Regions from separate parts of the Homo sapiens genome. Here region 2 is linked to region 1. The links come from fine-mapping of genetic effects on gene expression. A gene starts in region 1. The other region holds a variant in brackets. All regions are shown on one strand. Distances are from middle to middle.

What was found. PIP is the estimated chance that this variant, and not a neighbour inherited with it, causes the effect.
Region 2: its variant is fine-mapped to the expression of NARS2 in skeletal muscle (FUSION, PIP 0.95).

Annotation. Positions count from the first base shown.
Region 1 is chr11:78,571,227-78,585,679 of GRCh38, reverse strand. It overlaps NARS2 (asparaginyl-tRNA synthetase 2, mitochondrial), which reads left to right and starts at 10,816. Exons shown (of 14, transcript NM_024678.6): 1 at 10,816-11,332; 2 at 14,236-14,345. The coding sequence starts at 11,192. It also overlaps the pseudogene RNU6-311P and the pseudogene COPS8P3. RefSeq lists enhancers at 10,521-10,660, 11,321-11,430.
Region 2 is chr11:78,032,393-78,047,999 of GRCh38, reverse strand. It overlaps NDUFC2-KCTD14 (NDUFC2-KCTD14 readthrough), which reads left to right. Exons shown (of 3, transcript NM_001203262.2): 2 at 9,242-9,336. The coding sequence ends at 9,336. It also overlaps a transcript of KCTD14 not described here. Among named protein-coding and RNA genes, the nearest start is that of KCTD14, 17 kb to the right of the region's middle. RefSeq lists silencers at 1,522-1,761, 7,760-7,819, 10,663-10,957 and an enhancer at 7,456-8,412. The variant G/TTG (reference allele first, on the strand shown) is at 8,932.

The DNA of each region.
Region 1 (14,453 bases):
GCTCTGTTGCCCAGACTGGAGTGCAGTGGCATGATCATAGCTCACTGTAACTTTGAACTCTCAGGCTGAAGCAATCCTCTTGCCTTAGCCAGAGTAGCTAGGACTATAGGTGTGCACCACCATGCGTAGCTATTTCATTTAAAATTTTTTTTTTTTTTTTTTTTTTTGCAGAAATGGGCTCTCACTATGTCACCCAGGCTGGTCTTGAACTCCAGGCCTCAAGCCATCCTCCTGCCTCGGCTTCCCAAAGTGCTAGGAATACAGGCATGAGCCACTGCACCTGGCCTGAACATAGTATTTTTAAAGTAAACTTTTAATTGAAGTTTAACATACAGTTTATATACATAAAAGCATAGAAATAATGAAGTTTACAAAGTGAATACACCCATATATCTACCTCCCTTCCAGATCAAGAAGTAGAAATTACCATCACCCAGAAGCCTCCCTTTTCATTCCTCCCACTCTTTCCCTAAAGTTAAGTATTTTTCTGGCTTTTATCACTATAGATTAGTTTTTCCATTAGAATACTTTACATAAATGAATCATACAATATGTATTCTTTTGTGTCTGGCTTTTTTTCCTCTCAACTTTATGTTCATGAGCGTCATCCTTTTTTTTCCTTTTTGAGAGAGAGAGAGAGTGTGTGTGTGTGTGTGTTTGAGACAAGCTCTGCTCTTTCACACAGGCTGGAGTGTAGTGGCACACACACAGCTCACTGCAGCCTTGACCTCCTGGGCTTAGTCCATCCTCCTGCCTCAGCCTCCCATATAGCTGGGACTACAGGCACATGCCACCATGTCCAGCTATTTTATTTTATTTTATCATTATTATTTTTTTTTTTGTCGAGACAGGGTTTCACCATTTTGCCCAGGCTGATCTCAAACTTCTAGGCTTAAGTGACCTGCCCACATGGGCTTCCCAAAGTGCTGAGATTACAGGTTTGAGCCACCATGCCTGCTGAGTGTCATCCTTATTGGTGTGTGTAGCAGTATTCTACTCATTTTGATTCTAGTTACATAAATATACCATAATTTATTACCCATTCTTCTGTTTATAGTAATTATTACAGTGTACATTCTTGATATAATAAAAATCTACTCTAAACTAGTTTTCTATTTCCCATCCAATGCAAGGATCTTACAATGCTTTAATTTCATTTACCTCTTTCCTGATTTTTGTGCTATTGGGGTTGTATATTTAATTTTATATGTATTTTTAGCCTCACAAGACATTGTTATCATTGTTCTATACAGTCAATATTTGTTTAGATTTACCCACTTTTACCCTCCACTGTTCTTTATTCCTTCATGAGTTTTCACACTTTTCTCTGGGATTATTTGCCTTCTGCCTGAAGACCTCTGTAGTGTGGGTCTACTAATAATAAACTGTCTTAGCGTTTGTTTATCTGAAACCTCTTTTATTTAACCTTCACTACTGAGGGATATTTCTCAGGTATAGAAGTCTAGGTTGGCAGATATTTTCTTTCAGAATTTTAAAGATACCACTATTGTCTTTTGGTTCCATAATTGCTTTTGAAAAGTCAGCTGTCTGTCTTATTTATTACTCCTTTGAATTTAGTGAAACTATTTTTAAGATTTTCTCTTTTCTTTTTGTTTCCAGGAGTTTTACTATGTGCCTAGGAATAGAGTGTTTTGTTTTTTGTTTTTTATCCTGCTTGTGTTTGTAGAGTTTCTTGAGTCTGTGGTTTGATGTCTTTTACCAGTTTTGAAAATTCGTGGCTATGATCTCTTCAAGTATTGTTCTAATTATGTCTCTCTTTACTCTCCTTATGAAACTCAAATTATGTGAATATTAGACTTTTTCACCATGTCACATATATTTGCAAAAGTAGAAAAACAAAATGGAGATGCCTGTAAAGTTACTGAGCCTGAGGAAGTTGCCATGACCAACCACCACTACCTTCTAAGGAGAATGTCTTTTGCTTTAAAAACTAATGAGTTTCTCTTATTGGAAAACCAATCTGGAATCACAAATGGAAGAGGATTCCAGGAAACACAGGGTTCCAGCCACAGATGGGAGCTCCAATGCTAACTGGACAGTGGATAATAAAACAGAGATGTTTAACTTTAGGGCATAGTAATTCAAATACTCACAGAGTCCTTATAAAGTTAATAAAAAGTTTTTCTATATTATTCTAAAATGTAGAACTCAAACCAAGGGATAGAAAGAAGCAATGAGCAAATGCAGTATATTTGTACAAACTTTAGCATTTATCTCAATGGCTTCTCTTCCAATATAACTATGTGACAGACCATTTTTTTCTTCTTTTGAAAGGGATACAAGCCTCCCTTGCTTTTCTCAAAGAAGTCCAGTTTTAAAGCCAAGCCCTACACTGCCAGCAGTAGATGTACTCACACTGTCAGAAATATCTACAATGAAACTGGATTTTAAGGAGAAAACCTGTTTTTCAACTGTATGTTAATATTTCACATCACTGATTCCCAGAGAATGAGGAGGAAATTCTTATATTCCCTAAGGAAGAGTATCTGAGTGTTAAGAAATTGTGTTTTTCTTTTCTAGAAGGAATCTCAAGGAATTCAGATTTATCCCCCTACTCCCCACCCCTTCTACCACTATGAGCCAGTGTTATTAACAATAGTGTGTCTTATCCTGGGAGAAAAGAGGGGAAAATTAGTGAGGGCCAATGTTCCACATTAAACTGAAGAGAGATACATTTATCTAGTGTGTAAGTCGGCTATTGCTGTATAATAAATTATCCCAAAACATATGCATTAATACAATAGTAAATATTTATTATTCTCACAGTTTCTGTGGGTCAGATGTTTGGGGATGGCTTAGCTTGGTGATTCTAGCTAGGGGTCTCTCATGAGGTTGCAGTCAAGATCAGCTGGAGCTATAGTAATCCAAAGGCTTGACAGGGGTAGAGGACCTGCTTTTAAGATGATTTATGCACATATCTCAAAGTGGCCCTGACTATTGGCAGGATGCCTCAGTTTCTTGCCACATTGACATCTTCTTAGGGTTAGTTATCTTTACAATATGGGACTTAGTACCCCCAGAGCAGGTGATCCAAGAAAGGAAAGCAGAAGGAGTGATGTCTTTTATGACTTGTCCTCAGAAGTCACACACCAGCGTATCTGCTGTATTCTTCTGGTTACATAAACTAATCCTATATGACTAATGTCACAGAAGACTATGCAAGGGTGTGAATACCAGGAAGCAAGAATCATTGTGGCCATCTTAAAGGCTGGCTACCATAACCAGTCAATAAGAAAAGTAAACTAAACTTTATAATTTTGTTGGGCTTCTCCCAAGTTAGTAAACATTAGAATATTACAAAAATGGGAGTTGAATCAATGACTTTTGTATAATTTACGATTAGTGCATATATGTCATACTCTTTCCTGATATACTGTATATCATACTCTAGTAAGAAATGTTAAATCGTTTAATACATTGAAAATAAAGATTTTACCTTTTTAGTGTCTGTCAATGCACATGAGTCTGAAAGTAAAGCTTGAAAAGAGTAGGATAAATCCATTTTCAGGGAAAGCATGTTGTGACTCTTCTTTACTATCGTTCACAGGGATTGGTGGAATTCAAGAATGTTCTGCTAAAGGAATACACCTATTAATGGAAACATCCAGGTAAAAGTAGAATCAGCTTGCCATTGTCGTTCTAATATACCTTTCACAAGCCTCTTCTGAAAGAAGTTTAAACAAATGTACAGAGTCATCGTTAATTATCTTCCTGCTTGAAAAACCAGTGCATAAATTCATCTCCTTTCTGTGTCTTTAAGTGCTTATAGGATTGTCTGTTAGTTTTAGACCAATGGTGAATGCTGATGGCTGCACGGATTTCAGGAAAACATCTTTTCCAGATTCTTTGCCATAGGAATAAAACTTTCTCAAGTTTAGAATTTACAGATTGTTAATCACACTACATTCTTTTCCAAATATATCCTTCATTCCTCATGACATTATGTAGTTAGAGCTGACCATATACTGGGTGAGTAGTAATCCCTCAGGAACAGCAGGGAACTTTCTTAGGTGACAAAGTATTTGCCAAAAGTTTACAGAAAATATCATACTTGCCAGCAGAGACATACCAAGAGTGGGGCAGTGAGAGTAATCTGCCCACGGTGCAGGCAATAAAGGGATGTGGGACTGTAGACATTTTTTTCCTTTTTAAAAATGTTTAATTTGTAGAAAATTTTAATACAATAATAATACTGACCAAAGGTCGATCAAGTTTTTGTTCACAGTTGTAAACTTAAACTATATTAGTTATAAAGTACTACCCCCTAAAAAATAATCTGATCGTTTGTAGAGTTTACTGTTTCAGAAGCAGTTTTTCTTCACTTATAACATTTTTGGAAACTGGAAACAATTGTCCATTCTTTTCTGTCTCATTAATAGAAAATGCTGGATAATATAGATGTAATAGTAAAAGGATAAGACAGAGTGCTCATTATGAAGTTGCATGATATAGTTTGGCTGTGTCTCCACCCAAATCTCATCTTGAATTGTAGCTCCCCACAATTCTCATATGTCATGGGATGGACCCGGTGGGAGGTAATTGAATTATGGGGGCAGGTCTTTCCCATGCTGTTCTCATGGCAGTGAATAAGTCTCACAAGATCTGATGGTTTTATAAACGGGAGTTCCCCTGCACAAGTTCTCTCTCTTGTCTGCCACCATGTAAGACACGCCTTTTGCCTTCTGCCATGATTGTGAGGCCTCCCCAGCCACGTGGAACTGTGAGTCCATTAAACCTCCTTTTCGTTGCTGGGCACAGTGGCTCATGCCTGTAAATCCCAGCATTTTGGGAGGCTGAGGCGGGCAGATCACTTGAGGTCAGGAGTTTGAGACCAGCCTGGCCAACATGGTGCTGCCCCATTTCTATTTAAAAATACATATATACAAAAATTAGCCAGGCATGGTGGTGCATGCCTGTAATCTCAGCTACCCAGGAGGGTGAGGCAGGAGAATCACATGAACCTGGGAGGTGGAGGTTGCAGTGAGCTGAGATTTTGCCTCGGCACTCCAGCCTGGGTGACAGAGCGAGACTCCATCTCAAAAAAGAAAAACAAAAACAAAAAGCAAACAAACAAACAAAAAAACCCACCTCTTCTTTATAAATCACTCAGTTTTGGGTATGTCTTTATCAGCAGCATGAAAATGGATTAATACACTGTGTATGCAATAAAGATAAATTTTATTTTATTTTATTTTTTGAGACAGGTCTTACTCTGTCAACCACACCCAGGTGGGAGTGTAGTGGTGCGATAGCTCATGGACTGCAACCTCCGTTTCCTGGACTCAGGTGATCCTCTTACCTCAGCCTCCTGAGTAGCTGGGACCACAGGTGTACACCACCACACTTGGATAATTTTTTGTATTTTTGGTGGAGATGGGGTTTTGCCATGTTGCCCAGTCTGCTCTCAAACTCCTGACCTCAAGCAATCCATTTGCCTCAGCCTCCCAAAGTGCTGGGATTACAGGCGTGAGCCATGGCACCCAGCAGCAATAAAGAGAAATTTTAAAACGCGAATCTCAACCTTTGAAGTTTTGTGTAATTCAAAAGAAAATATATGATTTTTCTTTTTTGAGTTATCTTGTTTTCCGGTGTAAACTAGAGGTTAATCATATACAAAAATATTTGCAAACAGCCAGAATCAGTCTCCAACAATGTACAGTGGAATTCTAAACTTTAAAATTGTTCCTTGAAGATCACCACATAAAAATTGTGGAGAAGGTCATTAACCGTGCAACAAGAACAAAAAAATGTAAGGAAATATAAATTAGGAAAAGAAACCATTTTCTAAAGAATAACAGGAGACATGGCAAAAGCACTGGTCTTACATTGCCAGAAGAAATATAAAGACTAATGCTTGAATGTCTTAATAATTTTCTTCAAGAACTATTCACTCTTTCTTAAGAAAAGGATCGAATATTTTCAAGATTTGCTGTCATTCAGCCATTTTCTCACAATACACCATAGAAAAGACAACCCACAGAGTGGTTGAATATTGCAATGCATGTAACTGAGAAGAACTCGTAACTAAAACATGGACAAAAGAACTTATATAGATTAATAAGAAAAAAGACTACTCAATAAAAGTAGTCTTTAGGAAAAATAAGACTACTCATTTTTCAATAGAAAAATGGGCAAAAGATGTAAACAGTCAATTTACCAAGAAGAAAGTCCAATGAAAATAAACACTGAAAAGCTGCCAAACAAAAATAATAATCAGGGGAATGCAAATTAAAACAGCAGTGGATACAACCACTTCCCCACCAATACGGCTGCTAGAGCAAGTTTGATTAAGACCAAGTATTATTCTCATTTAAACAGCATATATACTAAAATTGAAAGGTTACAGAGATTAGCGTGGCCCGTTCAAGGATGACACATATATTTATGAAGTGTTCCACATTAAAAAAAGATCAAGTGTTGACAAGAATGTAAAGCGACTGAAACTCTCATATATGGCTGGTCACACTGGTGACACTTTGGAAAAAATTTGGCCCTATTTGTTAAAGCTTAAGGTTGCATGTCTTATAGCAATTTCTCTCAACTATGAATAGCACCATGCAAGGTCCGTGGGTGTTTTGTTTTGTTTTGTTTTGTTTGAGACAGAGTCTCACTCCATCGCTCAGGCTGGAGTGCAGTGACATAATGCAACCTCCGCCTCCCAGGTTCAAGCAATTGTCCTGCCTCAGCCTCCTGAGTAGCTGGGATTACAGGCATGTGCCACCACGCCTGGTTAATTTTTTTTCGTTTTTCTTTTTTTTTTTTTTTTTTTTTTTTTTTGAGATGGAGTCTTGCTCTGTCGCCCAGGCTGGAGGGCAGTGGTTTGATCTCAGCTCATTGCAACCTCTGCCTCCCAGGTTCAAGCAATTCTCCTGCCTCAGCCTCCCCAGTAGCTGGGATTACAGGCACCTGCAACCACACCTGGCTGGTTTTTGTATTTTTAGTAGAGACGGGATTTCACCATGTTGGCCAGTCTGGTCTCGAACTCCTGACCTCAGGTGATCCACCCACTTCAGCCTCCCAAAGTTCTGGGATTACAGGCATGAGCCACCGCATCTGGCCGATGCCTGTCTAATTTTTGTATTTTTAGTAGAGATGGGGTTTCGCCATGTTGGCCAGGCTGGTCTTGAACTCCTGGCCTCAAGTGATCTGCATGCCTCGGCCTCCCAAAGTGCTGGGATTACAGGCATGAGCCACTGCGCCCAGCCAATTTTAACTTTTTGTCATAGACTTATGTATATTTTATGATAGTAAATGATAAAATAGACTAGTAACTACATGTATCTTGTGAATTCATGACCTTTTTATTAAATGCTTTGATATTTCTAGGCTACACAGGTCATTAGTAAGTTTTCTGAAATTGTCACAAATCTCCAAGAAATTTTCCAATATATTTATTGAAAAAAATTCACATACAAGTGGACCGGCACAACTGAAACCCATGTTGTTCAAGGGTCAACTATATATTCATATTAAAAACATCATTTGCACTCCTGTCTGGAAGGTGATGAATCTAAAAGGGAAGGTGTCAAGCCAACACTGAAAACAAAAATAAACAAGAAGATGATGTGATTTGATATAGCACAAGATACAGGGGATGGTTTGAACTGAGCACCAGAAGCGTAAGTTGTATAGTAAACTTTTTCTCTTGTCTTCAACATACTGGGGCAGTGGTCCCCTGCTAAGAACATAATTAACCTTTTGGCTTAAACAAGTAGTGAGAGGGTAAAGGAAGGCAGGAGCCTCACTCCCTGGGACTCAGACTCCAGTTCTTAAGCTGCACATTGTTCCCTGGAGTAGGGGAGTTGGGAGAGAAAGAAGGTGCCTTAGCCCATTTTATGTTGCTGTAAAGGAATACCTGACACTGGGCAATTTATAAAGAAAAGAGGTTTATTTAGCTCATGGTTCTACACGATGAGAAGTTCAAGGGCATGGCCCTGGCTTCTGGTGAGGGCTTTCGTGCTGCATCACAACGTGGTGAAGAAGGTCAAAGGGGAAGTGGACATGTGCAAAAAGGGGAACCCCTGAGGGGCATCCTGGCCTTATAACAACCTACTGTGGTGGAAACAAGCCCATTCTTGCAAGAACTCATGCAGTCCACGGAAACAGCACCAAGCCACTCATGAGGGATCTGCTCCCATACACCAGACCACTTCCATTAGGCCTCATCTCCCAACACCACCACATCAGGGATTAAATTTCAACATGAGTTTTTGTGGGGACAAACAAATCATATCCAAGCCATAGCAGAAGGCAAGACAGAAAAATGGCATGAGTAAGAAATGAGCCAACTGGTTACTACTTTTGATCACTTGGACAGGGTAGGCATAGGCAAAGAAAAGATTTTCACTGGGATAAACATCATTGTTATGTACCCCAGACTGTCTTGTTCCCCAGATTTTGAACGAGCGAACTTTTTTTCCCTTAAAAGTCCATAGCTGCATAATTCTGAAGGCATTGGCTGCAAGTTTCCATTTTTCCTTTCTCAAGGTTCAAGAAGTGCCCAAGTATTTTTTTCTTTTCTTTTCTTTTCTTTTTCTTTTTTTTTTTGAGACAGAGTCTCACTCAGTTGCTGAGGCTGGAGTGCAGTGACGTGATCTCAGCTTACCGCAACCTCTGCCTCCCAGGTTCAGGCAATTCTCCTGCGTCAGCCTCCCGAGTAGCTGGGACTACAGGCACATGCTGCCACATCCAGCTAATTTTTTATATTTTAGTAGAGATAGGGTTTCACCATGTTGCCCAGGCTGAGCTCAGGCAGTCTGCCCACCTTGGCCTCCCAAAGTGCTAGGATTACAGGCGTGAGCCACTGCGCCTGGCCTATATATTTTTTTTGATCGATAAGAAGTGTATTCATTTATTTGCACAGTTCTGCAGGCTGTGCAAGAAGCATCGCACCAGAATCTGCTTCCACTCAAAGTAAATAATGTCAAGGTTTGTTGTCATTCAGCCATTCAGGAAGGCAAAGGGGAGCAAACATCACATGGCAAAAGAGGAAGGAAGAGAGAGGGAGGGGGGTGCCAGGCTCTTTTCAACAATCAGCTTTGCAAAAACTAATGGACTGAGAATTCACTCCTGCAAGGGTGGCACCAAGGCCTTCATGATCCAAACACTTCTCACTAGGTTCCACCTCCAACATCAAGTATTTTCAGATGAGATATTTTCTAGCCTGTCTTAAGAATGATTTTACAATTTTTCCAGGCCATTTGCCCTCCTGGCAACCTTCCGTGTTCACCTTCTGGCAGGAAATTTTCTTACATGCCTACCTGGCAAAATATTGATCCACTTCAAAAATTCAGCTTAATTTTCTCCTTCTCTAGACTATATTATATTTTATCCAACATATTTTATATTATAAGTATATAATATATAATATATCCAATATAATTTAATTATATATTATAATTTATAATTATAATTTTATTATATTTATAATTTTAATTTATTAAAAGAACCAGGGAACACATTTATATTATATAAAATATAAAATTGTGATACATGTATATATTATAATTGTATTATATTTTATCCAATATAATATTTGGATAAAATATCAAAAATAATTTTTTGGATAAATTTAAGAGGTAGCCTAATATATAAGGGTGACTTTTCAGTCCAAACAAATGCAGACAACTCATACATCTATGTGTGCACTTACTGGTTTATATTTCAGTAGTCTCTTTTCTTGCTTGTCTCCATCTCTAAAGCATGAGCTCCTTGATGGAACAGATCACCTTGGGACACTATGTAATACAGCATACTGCTTAAGTGCATAGAGCCAGCACTTCTGGGTTTAAATCTCACACTTAGGGAATGTGTATCCTTAAGTAGGTCATCTAGCCTTTCTGTGCGTAAGTTCTCTCATTTGTAAAATGGGTATAATAATAGTAGCAACTTTAAGTAAGGTAAAAGTGAGAGAGAGAGAGTGAGAGTGAGAGGGAGCGGGAGAGAGACAGCGAGGGCGAGCGCTGGTCTTGAACTCCTGGGCTGAAGCAATCCTCCTGCTTCTGCCTCCCTAAGAGTTGGGATTACAGGCGTGAGCCACCGCACTTGGCCAAACGTTTTACTTTTTAAATTAGATTAAAAACCTTTTAATGACCGTCATTGAGTTACAGAATTTTTTTTTTAATAAAACGTAGCCTAATATATAAAAGGGTCATTGTTTCCAGGTCAAACAAATGCAGATAGCTGTGTTGGAGGGCAGAGGGAAGAGGGAGACTTGGAGGATTCTGGCAGGAAACACTCGAGTTTCCTCCAGTCTCTGCAACATCTTCCCACCGTCTTGCCTGCCATATGCAAGGTCCCTCCAGTTCCTTTTATTTACCTGTCAGAGGACTACTTTCTCCAGGAAGCCATCTCTGGCGTCCCACGCTTAGGCTCTGTCAGGCAAACTGATCGCCCTTTTATGCAACTGTCTGTTTAGCTGTCTGATACCACACAACTGTGACTTGCGCATTGGGGCTATGTCTGATTTTTCTCTGCGGAGTACTCAGGAAAGGAACGACTGATCTCTTCAAGCGAATCCTGTTAACAGCTAAGAGCCTCCTCTTACTTGGATCCCTATTGTTGACTGATGGAGACGGTTTCCCTCTCCATCAGTCACTCCTTGCCTCTCAGTTTCTCAGCCTCACCTGGAAACTTTAGAAATGAAGACCCTCAGATGTGCTCCCACGTTCTTTCAGCGATAATCTCTACAACCTTAGGGCATTAGCTCCGCCCCGTCTCGGCTCCTGACCCCGCCCCCTCCCGCACGCCTCCCTAAGCCTGGGTCACAAGTACGCATGCTCTCCCTTCTTCCCCGTAGCGTGATGACGTAAGCGGCGTTGGCGTGGTGTGGTAGGAGTGGTTGCGCGTGTTGCGGCCCGGGTTCTGTTCGTAGGTTTACAATTGTCGCGGGTAGTGGGGCGCCCCAGCTGCCAACTGCACGTGGTTTCTTTCTGGCGTTTGCCTAGTGTCCTGTCCATTCCGCCCCGTTGGGAAGTGGGAAGCGGAGAGGTTCTGTGGGGACAGAGCTGGGAGTCCTGAAGGAGAAAGCGCGCAGCCGAGGGGCTCTGGAGTGCCTTAGAGCAGAGCTGCGGCCGCGGAAGGGGAGCAGCTGAGAAAGGAGGGCCGCTGCAGGCGGGGTTCGAACCGTGGGGTCTGGGCTGCTCCCGCGGAGGGCCTGGGCGGACGCGGGATGCTGGGGGTCCGCTGCCTGCTGCGGTCCGTGCGCTTCTGTTCCTCCGCCCCCTTCCCCAAGCACAAACCTTCAGCCAAACTGAGCGTGCGGGACGCTCTCGGGGCTCAGAACGCGAGTGGGGAGCGCATTAAGATCCAGGTTGGTGAATGGGAAGGGAGTGGGTTTTTTCTTGTAGGGACTTTTATATGGCACATCCACATCTAGCTTTTCTTTTACAGTCGGGTCAGACACAACCGCCAGCAGGGAAAAGTTAGAAAGTGTAGGCGTCGCGGGTTTGCACTTTTCTGATTTCCATTACTTTTCACAAAACTGTTCCGATAACTGTAAAGCGCTGGAACTTTGCTTTCATGATTCCAGGGTATTACCTGTAAACTTGTTAATCATACCAAAAGTGTAAATGAACAAGCCCCCTTTCTCTATCTTTATCCCTTATAATGAATATCCAGGTTTATAAAGTGGTTGTCTTGACCTCCCTCCTTGAGAGCAGAAACCGTGTCTTACCTGCCTTTGTATTCACACATGGCTGACAGCAAATACTTGTTCAAACCATGCCTTTTAAACTTTTAGCGACCTCAGTGCCTATTGTGGGGGTCTGCATGTAATTTATTTTTAATGAATTCGGAGAAAGACTGGAATGTAGCAGTTTGAAAGAGCTCTGGAGTTAAGCTGCTTAGGTTTAAATCTCTGCATAGCGTTTATGCGTTCTACACCTTATTTTCCTCTTATGGAAAGAGATAATAATTGTCCCTGAGTCCTGAAAATTAAATGAGGTAATGGAAGTAAGATATTTAGAACAGTGGCTCATAGTCTACAAATGTTAGCTGCTATTGTTTCTCTTGCTGATTATATTATTTGCAGCAGCTCCACATAGAAGAGGTGCAGAATAAACAAGGTGTTTGACTGTTTCTTATTAGGTTGCTGAAGTACACTGATGTGGTTATTTATTTTTTGAGACAGGGTCTAGCTCTGTCACCCAGACTGGAGCGCAGTGATGTGATCTCAGATGACTACAACCTCCATCTCCCAGGCTCAAGCAATCCTCCTGCCTCGGCCTCCAGAGTAGCTGAAACTATAGGCATGCACCACCACACTCTATAATTTTTTAAGTTTTTTGTGAAGATGAGTCTCACTGTATTGCCCAGGCTGGTCTCAAACTCCTGGACTCAAGCAGTCCTCCTCCTTCGGCATCCCAAAATGCTGGGATTACAGGCATAAGCCTGGTAGATGTTGTTATAATAAATACTTATTTTTTGAGTAGGTTCTTGCTTTGTCACCCATGATTGTACTGACACAGTCATGGCTTGCCGTTGCAGTGATTTCTGTTGTCCTCACATATCCTTTACTTTTTAGCGGTATGACCAATCTGCTCCTCTTTGAGTTCCATATTCTTTCCATAGGTCTGTTGGTCTATTGATTGGGTATACATTAATGATACTTTGTGTGCTAGTCAAGAGAAAATTCAAAGATGAAAAGAGAACCTGCTGCCCAGGTTAGAGGATTTCAGTTTAGTCCTGTGAGGTCTGATATGGTAGCTACCAGCCACTTTTGGCTCTGAGCACTTGAACTTTGTCTGGTCCAAATTGAGATGTGCTATAAGTGTAAAATACATACCAATTTTGAAGAACCAAAAAGAATGCAAAATATCTCAATATGTTTTTATATTGATTATATGTTGATAATATTTGGGGCATAATAGGTTAAAGTGAAATATTTCATCTATTTTTATGTTTAACGTGGCCACAAAAAGAAATTTTAAATTAAACATGTGACTCACATTATGTTTCTGTTGGACAGCCCTGCTCCAATGGTTAAAACAAATAATTTTAGCAATAGGATAGTTGGTAGTAAGGTAAGTAAAGAACTATAAGAAAACAGGAAGTTACGTAACTGAGAAGGTTAAGGAAGATATCTTGCATGAGGTGATATTTCAGCCAAGTCCTGAAAGATGTGTTCCCTAGGCAGAGGAGCTGGGGATGGGGCAGAATTATAATAGCATCCCAGAAAAGCTCGTTGATAAGAACATGAACTTTGAAGTAAGAAATTCCTTTTGAATCTCAACTCTACTAATCGGTGACTATGTCCTGGACTATTTAGAGAGGTTATCGTGACATCTCTAAATAATGTTTCATCAGCTCTAAAATGATAACCACTTCGTTAAGTTTTTCTGATGATTAAGTAGCATAATATTTATAAAGAGGTTAGAATAGAAGCACATTACAAAGTGCTCAATAAATGTTAACTTTAACAAGTGAAAGTAAGAAAGTAGTCGTTTGGAAATTAGTTTTTGTGTTTTTTTGTTTTTTTGAGATGGAGTCTTGCTCTGTCACCCAGGCTGGAGTGCACTGGCGCGATCTTGGCTCACTGCAACCTCCGCCTCGTGGGTTCAAGCGATTCTCCTGCCTCAGCCTCCCCAGTAACTGGGACTACAAACGAGCGCCAACACTCCCGGCTAATTTTTGTATTTTCGGTAGAGACAGGGTTTCACCATGTTGGCCAGGCTGGTCTCAAACTCCCGACCTCAAGTGATCCGTCCTTCTCGGCCTCCCAAAGTGCTGAGATTTCTGTGCCCAACCTGGAAATTACTGTTGATTTAGAATCACCAAAGAGGAGATGCCTTCTGGGCAGCGCAGTGAGATGAAACCAGAAAGAAGGGCGCACCCCACATCCTGAGAAAGGCACCAAGATATGTGCCCTGTTATTTATTGTTGGGCCAGAGGGCAGGGCTCTGGGAGGAAATACCTGGAATTGCCAATATTGGGAGGATTGATTATATGAATTAGGCTCATCAACATGAAGGAATGTTAGGCATCCATTCGAAATGTTGTGCATTATTACGAAAACAAAAGATAGAATACCAAAGTGTGTATCCTATTGTGATTGGAACATATAAAATTAAGTATGCATATTGGTGAACTAAAAGAAGTTGATTTGTTGAGGCAGGATTGTGAGTACATGTTTTACTTTCATTTAGTCTGTGTGTGTATGTGTAATGAAAACGTAAAATGTTTTACGCTCACATTGGAAATATTTCTCTTCCTTAGGGATGGATTCGTTCTGTCCGATCCCAGAAGGAAGTCTTGTTCCTGCATGTAAATGATGGGTCATCTTTGGAAAGCCTTCAGGTTGTTGCAGATTCAGGCCTTGACAGTAGGTGAGTTTTGTTTTTTAAAAGAATTCTTTGATTTTTGTTTTTCACCTCTAGTGCTTCTCACTTCCCTACTCCAGTGTTTACGTTGGACCCCTGAGTAATCTTTTGAAA
Region 2 (15,607 bases), 540 kb after region 1:
TCTGTCACCCAGGCTGGAGTACAGTGGCATAATCACGGCTTGCTGTAGCCTCAACTTCCCAGGCTCAAAGGATTCTCCCACCTCAGCCTTCCCGAGTAGCTGGGACTACCGGCATGTGCCACCAAGTCCAGCTAATTTTTTTATTTCTTGTAGAGACAAGAAATATAATTTGGCTGGGCACAGTGGCTCACGCCTGTAATCCCAGCACTTTGGGAGGCCGAGGCAGGTGGATCATGAGGTCAGAAGATCGAGACCATCCTGGCTAACATCGTGAAACCCCGTCTCTACTAAAAATACAAAAAATTAGCCAGGTGTGGTGGCAGGCGCCTGTAGTCTTAGCTACTCGGGAGGTTGAGGCAGGAGAATGGCGTGAACCCAGGAGGCGGAGCTTGCAGTGAGCTGAGATTGTGCCACTGCACTCCAGCCTGGGCAACAGAGCGAGACTCTGTCTCAAAAAAAAAAAAAAAAAAAGAAATATAAGTTTCGTCACATTGTCCAGGCTGGTCTTGAACTCCTGGCCTCAAGTGATGCCCCTACCTCAGCCTCCAAAAGTGCTAGGATTACAGCCATGAGCCACCGTGCCTGGCCAGGATATAGTATATTTAATAAAATATATACCTATTAAAATTTTTCTGGCTGGGTATGGTGGGCTGTAATCCTAGCACTTTGGGAGGCCTGGGTAGGAGGATTGCTTGAGGCCACGAGTCTGACACCAAGATGGGTGACATAGTGAGAGGCCCCATCTCTACTAAAAAATATTTTTGCAACCTGGGCAGCATAAAGAGACCCCATCTCTACAAAAAATTTAAGTTAGCTGGGTGTGGTGGCATGCGCCTATGGTCCCAGCTACTCAAGAGGCTGAGGCAGGAGGATTGCTTGTGCCCAGGAGGTCAAGGCTGCAGTTAGCCGTGATCATTGCCACAGCACTCCAGCCTGGGCTACAGAGCAATGCGCTGTCTCAAAAAAACCCCCAAAATTATGATTTCATGTATCTGTATATTCTTTATACCTACACAGGTAGTAAACACAAACTTAAACGTTGGAATGAAAAAGCAAATTGAAGGAGCCATCTGGGTGGAGGGAGGGGAAAAAAGGAAGCGTACATGAGTACTTTATATTCATTAGGTCTTATTTCCCAAGCTTAGTAATGGCTACATGAATATTTATATATTCATCATCTAATATTTTTGAATAGATTAAGTACTTATAACAACAGAAAAGGAAAAGTGAGAAATGTTTTCTAGGAATAAATGCAAGCCTCAGCAAAAGTTCAGAGGCATGAAATAGCAAGATACATACATACATATATACTGATGATTCTCCAGCATGCCTGCACTCTCTCCCAAACTCCACCATAACTTCCAAATCTTTGCTCACCTCTTCCTAACCTCGCCCCCTTAAGTCCAGCCTCAGCCCCCGCGCTGACATTTTCGCCAGATCAGCCCCCTTCCCCTTTAGGATAGGCTCTCCTCTCATTGCAAGGTGCGCCTCTTATCGTGGGTGGCTCAATCCATGCATGTATGCCTGTCCCCAAAGAACTGCAAACTCTGGGAAGGTTGGACTCCCAGCCCCAGGCTCAGGGCTCCGGTTCAGGCGGGGCCCCCGCCGTCGCGGCTCCGGCCAGCAGAGGGCGCTGCCGGGCAGGCCCAGGCCTGGAGTGGCGGGGACCCTGGCCTCCCGCCAACACGCGAGCTTTCCGGCTCACAATTGTCAAATCCTCTCATCTTTCCAAGACACCCTCACCACATAGACAGCGTCGATGTTCTGTAGCTGGTTTACTAAAGGGGCTTGACTTAGCAGGGAAAAGCACTGAGCCGATCTCTTTCTTTCCTGCTCCTGCCCTTGCGAACTGATTCTGTGGACTCCTTTTTTGCTGTTTCTGGGGGAAATCTCGGCAGATCACTCGCTTTTCTCGGAGTCCTCCCCGGTTTACTGTCAGGTAATTCCAGCTTGTGTCTAAGTGCAGGCCATTATTCTGGCAAACGCTCCCCTCCTGAGGCTGCCTCTAACTGGGACACCTGCTGACTGGGGAGAGGACCGGCAGCCTCCCTGCGTCCTCACCCAGCTCTTCTGCTCCTCCTGCCCCTACACAGGCTGCCTCGGACTCTTCCTGGGTGGGGTGGGGGAGAAGCGGTAGGGGCAGCAACGTCTGAGGAGGACCTGAGTACTCTGGGCTTTTGGGAGCACTTTGACGGGCGTTATGAAAACCCTCACATCTCTCCTCAGTAGTACCCTTATAAAGAGGGGCTGTCTCCCCCAGGGCTGCTTATGAAACTGCCTTTGAAAAAACTATAACAGTGAGAAAATTAGGGCCGCAAAAGACATCTGATCTAACCAACCCTCATCTTGCCTTTAACCTCCAAACTGCCTTTGGTCACTCCTGGGTTTAGGCCAAGCTAACTTTGGAAGACATTTAGTTTATAGTTTAAATGATAGCAGCCCTTCTCCAAAACTCAACTGCCTTTGTAAAGCTAATGAAAGACCAACCAGGTCAGGAGGATGTTGAGCCTGAGTTCTGCTAAGGTGCAGACATAAACGATTGCCAACCATTATTCCAGAGGCAGAGGGAAGATATGCAACTTCCCCAATTACTCCTGCAGATAACATCACTATCGTAGAACCTAAGACTGGTACTTTGGGAGGCCAAGGCAGGCAATTGCTTGAGCTCAGGAGTTCAAGACCACTCTGGGCAACATGGCAAACCTTGTCTCTACAAAAAATACAAAAAAATTAGCTGGGCGTGGTGACATGTGTTGGTAGTCCCAGCTACTTGAGGGCGGAGGCAAGAGGATTGCTTGAGCCTGGGAGGTCAAGGCTGCAGTGGGCTGTGTTTGTGCCATTGCCCTCCAGCCTGGGTGACAAAGTGAGACCCTGTCTCAAAAAAAGATCTCAGGAGTTGGGTGAGTGGGCTTGAGCATTCACACCTACGAGGCAAAATGGCACAGCTTAACTTGTGTGTGACCTTCCTCTAGGAACACTTGACTGGTAAGAGAAAAATGCCTGAAATGAGCATGTGAACAATTTCAGTAAACATACTACACATGCGGGCCCCTCCCAAGTGCTGGCAGGCCACTGTGCATGTGGACAGCCCACACCAAGGAAATATCAAGGGAGGGGAGGCGCAAAACCCCGGAAGCATGCCAAGGTGTAAAGCTCCAAGTCCAATGTCAAACCGGACAAGGATCTCTCAAGTCACCTGCTTGGTCCTCTTCCAAGTGTACTTTACTTCCTTTTGTTCCTGCTCTAAAACTTTTTAATAAACTTTCACTCCTGCTCTAAAACTTGCCTTGGTCACTCCCTCTGCCTTATGCCCCTCCGACTAATTCTTTCCTCTGAGGAGGCAAGAATGGAGGTTACTACAGACCCGTACAGATTCACTACTGCTAACAATTTGAGAAATAACTCCGTCTCCTGTGCGGCATGGCTGGCCTTGTGGCAATTAAACTATATCTTTATTACAATGCTGCGTGGTCTCAGTGAATTGGTTTTGTCTGTGCAGTGGGCGGAAGAACCTACTGGGGGTTATACTCACTTACTGCCCCTCAGCTACTACAACCCTCCTCACACCTCCAGTCTCATTCTGCCGGAGTCCCCTCACCCCTAGATAGAAGCTCTCTTCCACCAGGTCCTTTTCAGGAAGATTTTTCTGCGGGGTCCACATGTGGGTCACAGGAAGCACACAGCTGGCAGTGCAGCCCCTTCCTAGCAGCCCCTCCACACCCTGCTAGGTGCCAGGCAGATTCCAGACCCCAGAGTCTCCACCTCCAAGACTCCCCAGATAGTTCTCCTAAAGCCTCGCTCACCTGGTTAGAGGTGAGGGAGAGCAGCGCCCTCTACTCCCTGTTTTGGGGTGTGGGCTGGGGAACAGGCTGAGGGAGCACGTTGACAACTCTGTCCAGAGAAATTTCCCCTCCAGCTTCTGGGGATGTCGCCTCTCTTTGTGGTCAGGAAGTAGGTGAAGAGGTGGGTTTTAACTCTGTTCTCCCTTCTGGGGAATCCTAGGTGGGTGGTCCAGCTTCACTTTAGGATCAGCAACTCTGGCCTTGTTTCTGCCTTTGGGGCCTCAGCTGAAATTCTGAGCCTACTGGAAAGTCTTCATTTACATTGTATTAGTTTCCAGACTTTCCCTAAGAGCTATTCAGGGTGTCTGTCACCTCGAGCCAGAAGAGACTTCCTCAGAGGATCCACCCAAGACAAAGCTGCCATCAGTTCCCTGAGTGAAACCCTTCCTTCTCTGTCAGCTGCATGTGGGCTGCACCACTTTGCCTCACCTTCCACCAGAAGAATCCTGCCCCTGCTTCTCCACTTGACCAACACCTTTTGGTCTTAGAAGACCCGAGTCAAAATGTCACCTGCTCCAGGAGGCCTTCCCTGACACCCCACGAGCTGGTTCAGGGGGCCCCTCCACTGTGCTTGTGCCAGCCCTGTCACGAAGGATTCTGTTGGCATTCCCTCTGTCTCAGTCTATCCCCTCACTTGATTCTGAGCTCTTTGCAAGCAAGGATGGTATTTGTTTTATTGAGTATGTTTAATTGTTTCATACGAAAAGCACACACAGGCTGGGTGCAGTGGCTCACACCTGTCATCCTAGCACTACTAACCTACTTTTGGTTTATCTGAATACCTCATTCTTTTTTAGCGATGACAGTTATTCCATAGCAAGAGACATCATCATTTTATCTAACCATTCTAATGAATGGATATTGAGTATATTCCTATTTTGTGGATAATACAAGCAACATTGCAACAAATATCTTACTACATAGTACACATGAGAGTATTTTGGTAGAAGAAAATGCCAGGGGTTGGGCTGCTGGAACATAGGGTGTGTGCATTTAAAAGTGTAACAGAGGCCAAGTGCGGTGGCTCACTCCTGTAATCCCAGCACTTTGGGAGGCCAAGGCAGGTGGATCACTTGTAATCCCAGCACTTTGGGAGGCCAAGGCAGGGATTACAGGTGTGAGCCACGGTGCCCAGCCCCTCTTCCCTTGTCTTTGTCAACCATGTGTGCAGTAAAGAAGCAGGCAACATGGCACCGGCCAGGTAGGGAAATCATTTGCATAATGAAAAATTAGGGTGGGGTGGCCAGCTTCTTCGCAAGCTATATAAATGGCACACCGGGTCTGACCAATCTTTTGTGCCCTATGTAAATCAGACACCACCTCCTCAAACTCGTCTAGAAAACCCCATGCATTTCACCACAGAACCAGAAGACCCACTCGGGAGCCTTTCTCTCTGCAGGAGAGAGAACTTTTCCCTTTCTCTTGCCTATTAAACTTCTCTCTTAAACTCACTCCTTGTGTGAGTCCGTGTCCTTGATTTCCTTGGCATGAGGCAATGAACCTCAGATATTTACCCCAGACAATGATGCTGCTTCAACACGAAGGTGGCCATGCCACGTAGGAGATGGAGTTATTACTCAAATCAATCTCGTTCAAAGCGCATAGGTTAGGGATTTTTCTTTTCTCTTTCTTCTATTTTTTTTTTTCTTTTTGAGATAGTCTCACTCTGTTGCCTAGGCTGCAGTGTAGCGGTGGGATCTTGGCTCACTGCAACCTCCGCCTCCCAGGTTCAAGCAATTCTCGTGCCTCAGGCTCCTGAGTAGCTGGGACTATAGACATGCGCCACCACGCCTGGCTAATTCTTGTATTTTTAATAGAGATGGGTTTTCACCATGTTGACAAGGCTGATCTGGAATTCCTGACCTCAAGTGATCCATCCCGCTTGGCCTCCCAAAGTGCTGGGATTACAGGAGTAAGCCACCGTGTCCAGCCATTATCATTTAAACTATGAACGAAATTTCTCCCAAAGTTAGCTTGGCATATGCCCAGGAATGAGCAAAGACAGTCAGCCTGTGACACCAGAAGCAAGATGGAGTCAGCCATGTCAGATTCCTCTCACTGTGATAATTTTGTGAAGGTGGTTTTTTTTACCAGGGGTCCTTGCTCACAGAGCTCCCAAGATGGTGGCGAGCTACTTCCAAGATGGTGGCAGGCCACTTCCAAGATGGTGGCAAGCCTTTCTTGGCCTCACGGATTCCAAGGAATGGAATCTTGGGCCATGCGGTGAGTGTTATAGCTCTAGTAGAAGCCGTGGGTCACGGAAGAGAACCGTGGAACCCAGTGACTAGTGTTCAGCTCGATTAGGATGAACCAAGGCACTTAGCTGTGCAGGAACAATGGCAAGCCTTTAGCACGATTGGGAGTGGCAACGGGAGTCTCGCTGGATCAGGAGCACAGAGGACACCCTGCCAGATCCGGAGGGATGGGAGTCAGTGGCAAACAGCAGTGGTGGATGGTGAGCGAAAGCTCAGCTCGAGCCGTAACAAACATGGACCAGAAGAGTGCAGTTGCAAGATTTAATAGAGTGAAATAGCGTGAAAACAGAGCTCCCATACAAAGGGAGGGGACCCAAAGGGGGTTGCCATTGCCGGCTCCAGTGCCTGGGTTTATATCCTGATCATCGTCCCTCCCGCTGTGCTCTCAGGCAACAGATGATTGGCTATTTCTTTACCTCCTGTTGTTGCCTAATTAGCATTTTAGTGAGCTCTCCTTACTATCTGATTGGTCCCATGTGAGCTAAGTTGTAAGCCCTGTGTTTAAAGGTGGAAGCGGTCACCTTCCCAGCTAGGCTTAGGGATTCTTAGTCGGCCTAGGAAATCCAGCTAGTCCAGTCTCTCAGTTTCATGCAGACTGGGTCTGCTGTGTTCTTGGGTCTCCAGCATCCAGCCCTGAGCCCACCCACACACAGTAGGTTTGCTCCCTGCAGCAACATCATAAACTCCAGTGCCCCTACCTACATCCTGCTGCCACTGCGCCAGTGCCGCCCTGGTGAGTCATCAGACCCAGTGTGCTGGCCCCTGGGGTGATAGAGCCTCTAATGGAAGCTTGACAGACTGTGTGTCTCCCAATCCTTGAAGCCCAGAGTGCCTGGGTCAACCTGGCTTACCAGGCAACTCCCACTTCGGAGATCTGTTAGCTTTGTCCTTTGTGAGAGGCAAAATCACCTTCCATTCAAATTAAGTCCTAGTGGCCGGGCGCGGTGGCTCACACCTATAATCCCAGCACTTCAGGAGGTTGAGGCGGGCGGGTCACCTGAGGTCAGGAGTTGGAGACCAGCTTGGCCAACATGGTGAAACCCCATTTCTACTAAAAATACAAAAATCAGCCGGGCGTGGTGATGCGTACCTGTAGTCCTAGCTACTGGGAGGCTGAGGCAGAAGAATTGCTTGAACCCGGAAGGCGGAGGTTGCAGTGAGCCAAGATCACGCCATTGCACTGCAGACTGGGGGCCAAGAGTGAAACTCCATCTCAAAAAAAAAAAAATAATAAAATAAAATAAAAAATCAAGGCCTAGCAAGGAGAATGTTGGTTGCCTTCTCTCCCTGGGGAAGGGATGACTCACAGAACAGGAGTGGTGGATGGAGGACAGACAGCCACCGAAGAGACAGAGAAAAGACACAGAAATGAGGCTGGATTCCAGGCGGAGAAAATTAAAAGGTGCAGAAAGAAGGCAAAAGAGGAAGAAAACAGCAGAGAGACACACAAAGAGAAAAGAGCCAGAGAGAAAGAGGAGCAGAGTTAAAGAGAGAAGAGACACAGGAAGAAGTGGAGGGAGAAAGAGGAAACAGAAAGGAAAAAAAGAAGAAAGAAAGAAAGAAAAGAGACAAGGAAGAGAGAAGGAGAAGACAGGAGAAAGGAAAAAGAACATGGAGCAGGAAGTGAGTTTCTGAGGGTACTTTGAATCAGCCAGAAAAAATGCCCGTACTTCAGATTCCAGGAAGACATGACACGGGAAACGGGGGCAGCCTTGGCTTGGTTCTCAGCTCCTGGCCAGCGGCCAGCTCTGGTTTCAGCCCTTGCCTGCAGCCCCGGAAGTCTGTTGGAGGTCAGACTCTGAACATGGGGCAAAAACATAAACAGGGCAGCCACACTCTGTGTGCCTGGATGGTGGGCACAGCTTTCTTAGTAATTTGGAAACACTGAATAAGAGCTCAAAAAAGTGCCTACTCCTTGCACAGTGCCTTAGCTATCAAGGATGCTCACTGCAGCACTATTATAGTAGAGAAAGAGAGAAAAAATACAGAAGGAAGGAGAGAAGAAAGAAGTAAAATGTGGCTTAGTAGATTTATGATACATTCATACAACACAATGCTCTGTCGCCATTTTAAAAAGTGGTACAGAAGAGCCCTTCATATGGGGGAAATCGTCACGATACCAGGTGGAAAAAATGAGTACACTTTTTTTTTTTTTTTGAGACAGGGTCTCACTCTGTCTCCCAGACTGGCTCACTGCAGCCTCAACCACCTGGGCTCAAGTGATCCTCCCACCTCAGTCTCCTGATTAACTGGGGCTACAGACACATATCAACATGCCTAGCTATTTTTTTTTCTTTTGTAGAGACAAAGTTTCACCATGTTGCCCCAGGCTCATACATGTTTAAATAAATCTTTTCTTTTTTTTTTTCTTTTTGAGACAGAGTCTTGCTCTGTCACCCAAGCTGGAGTACAGTGGTGAGATCATGGCTCACTGCAGCCTCAACTACTGGGGCTCAAGCAATCCTCCCGCCTCAGCCTCCTGAGTAGCTGGGATTACAGGAGCACACCACCACACCTGGCTAATTTTATTTATTTTTTTTGTATTTTTTGTAGAGATGGGATCTCTCCACATTTTCCAGGCTGGTCTTGAACTCCTGGGCTCAAGCGGTCTGCCTGCCTCGGCCTCTCAAAGTGCTGGGATTACAGGCATGAACTGCCGCACCTGGCCTGGTTAAATAAATATTTTAAATGGCATGATTCAAGTTTTGTTAGTGGATATATATGTAGTAGGGGTGGCACCAACCCTGTCCCAGTTCAAGGTCCTCTTGAAATTCAGTTCAGCCCAACCCTGTGGTCAGAGACACCTGTTTTTTTGTGTTTTTTTTTTTTTTTTT[G/TTG]TAATCTAAAGTCCAGACTCTACTCCTTCCCTCCTAGCCCCATATTCTCCCTTCTGGGGAAATTCCCATGAGTTTTAGGCAGGGCGCCAATTCCTGGCCCTTGCTCCCGCTATGGAATCCCTTGCAAGAGATGGGATTCTTTTGCTGGCAGCCCCTGGTACATCCGGGCCTGACCGTGACCACAGCAGCAGTAGCCATCCAGTTCTGCAGTGTGGCTCCAGTCAGGCTCCTGGCCTGGGCCCTCTGAACTCCTGGTCCTCGTCCTTTGTGAACACTGATAGTCTTCTAAGAAATTCTCTTTCTGTTTCAGGGGGTGACATTGGCCTCTGTTGCTTGTCCCCAGGATCCCTCTCTGACACCCCTGCTGTGTTTGCTGTGGGGAGTTCTGCTGCCACCACCCATTAGGTATGCAGGTCACCCCCTCTCTTGGGTCCAGGTGTCTGGGCTGTGTGAGATGGTGGAGAAGCTGTTCACTTGGGGTAACCAGCTGGGGCCTACGCACTTGGGCTGGGGAGCCAGTGAGCGGGGAGCCAGATGGGGTGCGGTTGATTCCTCTCCAGGAACCCAAGGAGGACAAGTTGGGAGAGGTCCTGGGTCCAGGCCATGGGAGATGCCCTTCTGAGTGACAGTGGACAGTTGGTAAACAATAATTGTTTGCACGTGGTCCTGGGCACCAGAAAATTGGCCCTGCAGGCCAGAGGCCATCAGCATGGCCTGAGAAAGAGGTTTGGGGTAAGAATAGGGAGAGGATGCGAGAACCTCTCACTCGAACTGGACCAGGGAAAGGCCTATGGGGCTTCAAAAGATGTCTCAGAGAAGGCAGGAGGAGCTGTCCACCAGGAACAGGACACCCGAGGTCCCAAGACTTGGGACGCTGCCCATGTTGGCTACTTCGTTCTGTCCTGTCTTTGCTGGCCAATTTTCAGTCAGAAACCCTTACATGGGAAGGGCCTCTGGATATGTTTGGGGAAGTAGAGAGAAAGGATGGTGTGGGGGGCAGAGTGCCTTAATCCATGCTGGTCTGGTGGGGAAGCCTGGGGCAAGAGTCAGGTAGCACTGATTTTTTTTTTTTTTTTTGGTCAACTTTTTATTGAAATGTAACTTACACACAGAGGAATGCACCTAAGTTAATATTCACAAAGTGAGCACACTTGTGGAACCAGCACCTAGCTCAAGAAAAAGAACTTTATTCAGCATCCCAGAAGCCTCCCATTAGGGAGGCAATGATTTTTTTTATTTATTTATTTTTGAAACAGGGTCTCACTCTTGTTGACTAGGCTGGAGTGCAGTGGCGCGATCTTGGCTCACTGCAACCTCTGCCTCCCGGGTTCAAGCGATTGTCGTGCCTCAGCCTCCCGAGCAGCTGGGATTACAGGCACCCACCACCACACCCGGCTAATTTTTGTATTTTTAGTAGAGACGGGGTTTCACCATTTTGGCCAGGCTGGCTGGAGGCAGTGATTTTAAAGTGGAACATGGGCAGGGTCTGAAAGCAAAGGGAGGAGGTAGGAAAAGGTCCTCCCATGTGCCAGCCTGGGATGAGTATAGTTCTGGGGGCTCAGCAGGAGGTCCCTTCTTTATTGGCACCAGCTGGTGAACTGGCCTACTCACAGGGCTCAGGAGTGCACCAGTCCCTGGTGCTCAGGGCCTTGGAGCTGGCCCTTGGGAGCTTGGAGAGCAAGTTATCAGCCATAAGTAGCCCTGCAAAGAGAGCCCAGAAACAGTGTTTGTGGAGGTCACAGAATAGGTGGAGCTGGGCCTAGAGCCTGAGGGCAAACAGGGAAGAGGATGTGTCCTGGCTGGGCTGGGAGGGCGTGTGCCCACGAGGTCTGAGAGTGGCTGGCCCCGGGGGAGTGGTTGCAGCAGGCACTATTTGCTCCCCAGTTTCTGATTGTCCAGGAATGATTCACATGAGTTTTACTGATTGGCCCCTCTGCCTCTCATCCTGTGGTGGACACCTGAGTAGGGGACAGAGGGCACCATGGAATGAGCACAGCTGTGGCTCAGAGGGACCTGGTTTTGAACCCTGGCTCATGGTTCCGTGACTTTGGGAAAGTCATATTCCTTCTTTGGCCTTGGTTTCCTCATTAGCAAAATGGGACAACAGCATGTACTTCCTAAGACAAACTGTGTAAAATGCCTGGCATTGGGCAGGCAATTAATACATGTCTGTTCCTTTCCTTTGCCATGTTTTCACTTAGCAGCGATTTATCCGGGGCCTAGCATGTAGCAGCCACATGTGCTCAGCACCAGGATCACAGTGGTGAACAAAATCACAGATGTGGAGACTGGCTGCCCTCATGGAGCTTGGGGCAGACATTCAGTAAACAAAGGCATGTCCTGAAGGAAAAGTAATGTCTTACTAAAAAGAATCATTGATGACAGCCTTCAAATAGAGTGGTCACGGAAGGCCTCTTGGGAAAGGTAACATTTAAGCTGAGATCTAAAGTATGAGAATGAGCCAGGCATTTGGGAAAGCAGTGCCGGGAGGAGGCTAAAGAACACAGGCTTTACAGCCAGATGTATATGGGTTTTGAATCCTGTTTCCTCTATTTATTTAGCTGTGGGACTTTAGGTGAGTGTCTTCACCTCTCTGGGCCTTGGTTTTATCTTTTGTGAAATGTGGCTAAAAATACCCACTTTATAGAATTGTGAGGATGAAACTCAATCGTGCATACAAAGTACCCTGCATGGAGTCTGGCACATGGTGAGCACCTGTGAAAATCAGCTCCCCTCTTGTCCCAGTTTGAGACTGTCAAGTGTACAGCATAGACACAATGCATGCACATGTGTGCACACACATTCACACTCACACTTGAAACACATATAGATATGCAGGCAGAACATAGATAGCTCTCTCAAGCTGGGTATTTCAGGAGACTTTCATAAAGGGACTCTTTTGTTTTTTTTTTGAGACAGTCTCATTCTGTCATGCAGGCTGGAGTGCAGTGGTGCAATCTCTGCTCAATGCAACCTCCTCCTCCTGGGTTCAAGTGATTCTCCTGCCTCAGCCTCCCAAGTAGCTGGGATTACAGGCACCCATCACCACACCCAGCTAATTTTTGTATTTTAGTAGAGACGGGGTTTCACCATGTTGGCCAGGCTGGTCTCAAACTCCTGACCTCAAGTGATCCGCCTCCCTTGACCTCCCAAAGTGCTGGAATTACAGGCGTGAGCCACTGTGCCCGGCCATGAAGGGACTGTTTTTTTTTTTTTTTTTTTTTGAGATGGAGTCTCGCTCTGTTGCCCAGGCTAGAGTGTGGTGGCACAATCTCAGCTCACTGCAACCTCTGCCTCCTGCGTTCAAATGATTCTCCTGCCTCAGCCTACCAAGTAGTTGGGATTACAGGTGCGCAACACAATGGCCAGCTAATTTTTTGTATTTTTAGTAGAGAAAGGGTTTCACTGTGATGGCTGAGCTGGTTTCGAACTCCTGACCTCAAGTGATCCACCCGCCTCGGCCTCCCAAAGTGCTAGGATTACAGGCGTGAGCCACCGCGCCTGGCCCATAAAGCGACTCTTTACAAAGAGTCCCTTTGGCAGGGTTTGGGGAGAGTAACAAGAGATAGTGCAGACCCTGAGGGTTAGTAACAGGGTGAGGAAGGGGGCAGTTAGCAGAACTGAGATGATAGCTGTGTGGAGACAGCTATCACGGGCTGGGACCTTCAGAAGAGGGATGCAGCCAATGTATAGGAACTCGACAGGGAGAGGGCCCGGGAAGGAATATTCTGGCTTCTGCCTCCTCTTGCCTCTGATCTCCCGCTAAGCTCCCATTGGCCAAACTCAGTTGGAAGCCAGGGTGCATGGAAGCCTGTGGATGCACCCCAAAAGGATCAGCCTCCCAGAGTAGAAAAGGCTGGAGTGGATCTGGAGAGACAGGTAGAAGAGTTACAGCATGCTCTCCACTTCCACTGGCCTCTTTAGAATGCCAGAAGTGACAGATATACCCATTGTAAAGTGGCGTAAGTCAAAAAGAAAAACCCTCGGTCACCTAACCGGAAACTCCAGGGGTAGGGCCTTAGGCAGAGCTTCATCAGTGCTCAAATGATAGCCGGCAATCAGGTTCTCATCAACTCTTAGTTCTATGTTCCTTTGTAGGTTAACTTCAATCTCAGGCTACATATGGTGGCAAGATGGTGGCGGTAGAGAGTAAAGAAGAGGGTGGCCCCCGAAGCAAAGCCGTTGTTCTTTACAAAGGAGAGTGAATAAAAGCAGGGTGGAAATGTTACACATGTTCACTACAGTGTACCTCGGAGAGCTCATGGCCCATAAACTCAGGCAAGAGGGATTGAGATCACTGAGGCCGCGGTGAGCAGGGTCCCCTGCTTGGCTATAGTCTGTTTGGGGATGACTCAGACTGTCTTGAAAACACGTGGGCTGTCCGTTCCCACCTCTGCACTGAAGGGACCTGAAAGATTACTTAGCCCAGCAAAAAGACGAGATTTGTACAAGACCATGTAGTTAATGTCAAGGCCAGGACTTGAACCCAGGTCGCACAATCTGTCCTCCACACATGACTTGAAAGAAAGAAAGAAAGAAAGAAACACCCATACAGAGTGTTTGGGTGAAAAACAGAGAGAGGAGAGAGGCAGAGAGAGAGAGAGAGAGAGAAAGATTAAGACAGTATAAAATAATATACAATGAAAAGTAATTTTCCTCCAGGCACAGTGGCTCACACCTGTAATTCCAGCATTTTGGAAAGCCAGTGAGAATTGCTTGAGCCCAGGAGTTCAGCCTGGGCAACACAGGAAGTTCTCGTCTCTACAAAAAATTTAAAAACTAGCCAGGCATGGTGCTATGCACCTGTAGTTCCAGCTACTCAGGAGGCTGAGGTCGGGGGATCTCTCGAGTCCAGGAGGTTGAGGCTGTGGTGAACTGTGATTGTGGCGCCCCTGAACTCCAGCCTGGGTGACAGAGTGAGACCCTGTCTCAAAAAAATAAATAAATAAAAGAGCTGGGTGTGGCATCCACTGCACTCCAGCCTGGGTGACAGAGCAAGACCCTGTTTCAGAAACAAAAAAGTAATTTTTGTCCCATGATGTATTCCTGGTCCTCTTTCCAGAGGTAATGATGACTAAGTCTCCTTTATATCTTTCCAGAAATTACCGTTGCAAATGCAATGGTGTGCATATATGTATTATATATAATGTGTGTATATATATATATACACACACACACATACACACACACTATTATTTTCTTTGTTATCTTTTTTTTTTTTTTGAGATGGAGTCTTACTCTGTCACCCAAGCTGTAGTGCAGTGGTGTGATCTCGGCTCATTGCAACCTCTACCTCTGGTTCGAGCAATCCTCGTGCCTCAGCCTCCCAAGTAGCTAGGATTACAGGCATGTGCCACAACAGCTGGCTAATTTTTTTTTTTTTTTTTGAGAAGGAGTCTCGCTCTGTTGCCCAGGCTGGAGTACAGTGGTACAATCTCAGCTCACTGCAACCTCTGCCTCCTGGGTTCAAGTGATTCTCCTGCCTCAGCTTCCTGAGTAGCTGGGACTACAGGTGCCTGCCACCATGCCCGGCTAATTTTTGTATTTTTAGTAGAGACAGGGTTTCACCATGTTGGCCAGGCTGGTCTTGAACTCCTGACCTGAAGTGATCTGCCCTCCTCGGCCTCCCAAAGTGCTGGGATTACAGGCGTGAGCCACCGTGCCCTGCCCCTGTCTTTGTTATCTTGGTGACCTTCCTATATTAGCCACAGAGATTCACCTCATTTTCAATAATAGAAGAGTGTTCTACTATATGGATATATTCTTATTTAACCAGTCCCCAAATGATGGACATTTAGGCTGCTTCTGGTCTTTTGCTTTTGCAAACAATGACGCAACGAACATTCTTGTGCACATAGTGTCTTTGCACATGTGTGCTCTAGGGGCTAATCCTAAGAATGGAAATGGTACCTCATGCCTTTCAAGGGCTTATGCTGACACCACTTATGCTAGAAAGAACAAAGACTGATAGAGTTGGAAGGGATCTTAACCATACTCAAGCCCAACTCTTCCCTCCTCATTTTGCAGATGAGGACACTGAGGCCCCAGGTCTGACAGCAGCCTAGTGGTAGATTTGAAGTAGACTATGGTTGGGCATCATGGGATAGGCCTGTAATCTGAGCACTTTGGGAGCCTAAGGTGGGAGGATGATTTGAACCTAGGAGTTTGAGACCAGCTTGGGCAACATAGTGAGACCCCCAGCTCTATAAAAAAAATTTAAAAATTAGCTGGGCATGGTGCTGTACCTGTTGGGGGTGACATGGTTGAGCCTGAGAGGTTGAGGCTGCATTAAGCCATCTTTGCACCACTGTACTCCAGACTGGGTGACAAATTGAGATGCTGTCTCAAAAAAAAAAAAAAAAAAAGAAGTAGATCACTTTATGTTCTCCCAGAGAAGATGTGGAGGAAAGAGGGCAAGGCTGGGAGTAGGGCAGTACTGTCCTGGCCTGGAAGGGCAGGGTGTGGACAACAGAGCAGTTCCTGAAGCCAGAATGCCTGGATTTGAATCGTGGTTTAGCAAAATAGGCTTTCTAAGCTTCAATTTCATCACCTGGAAAATGGGGGTGGTTTTAATCTTCCTTTAGTCTTCCTTATAGGGTTGTTGTGAAGATTAAATGAGATAATGCCTGTGAAACAAAGGTTACCTTTTACTACCATTTCCTAGCCTGGGCATCTT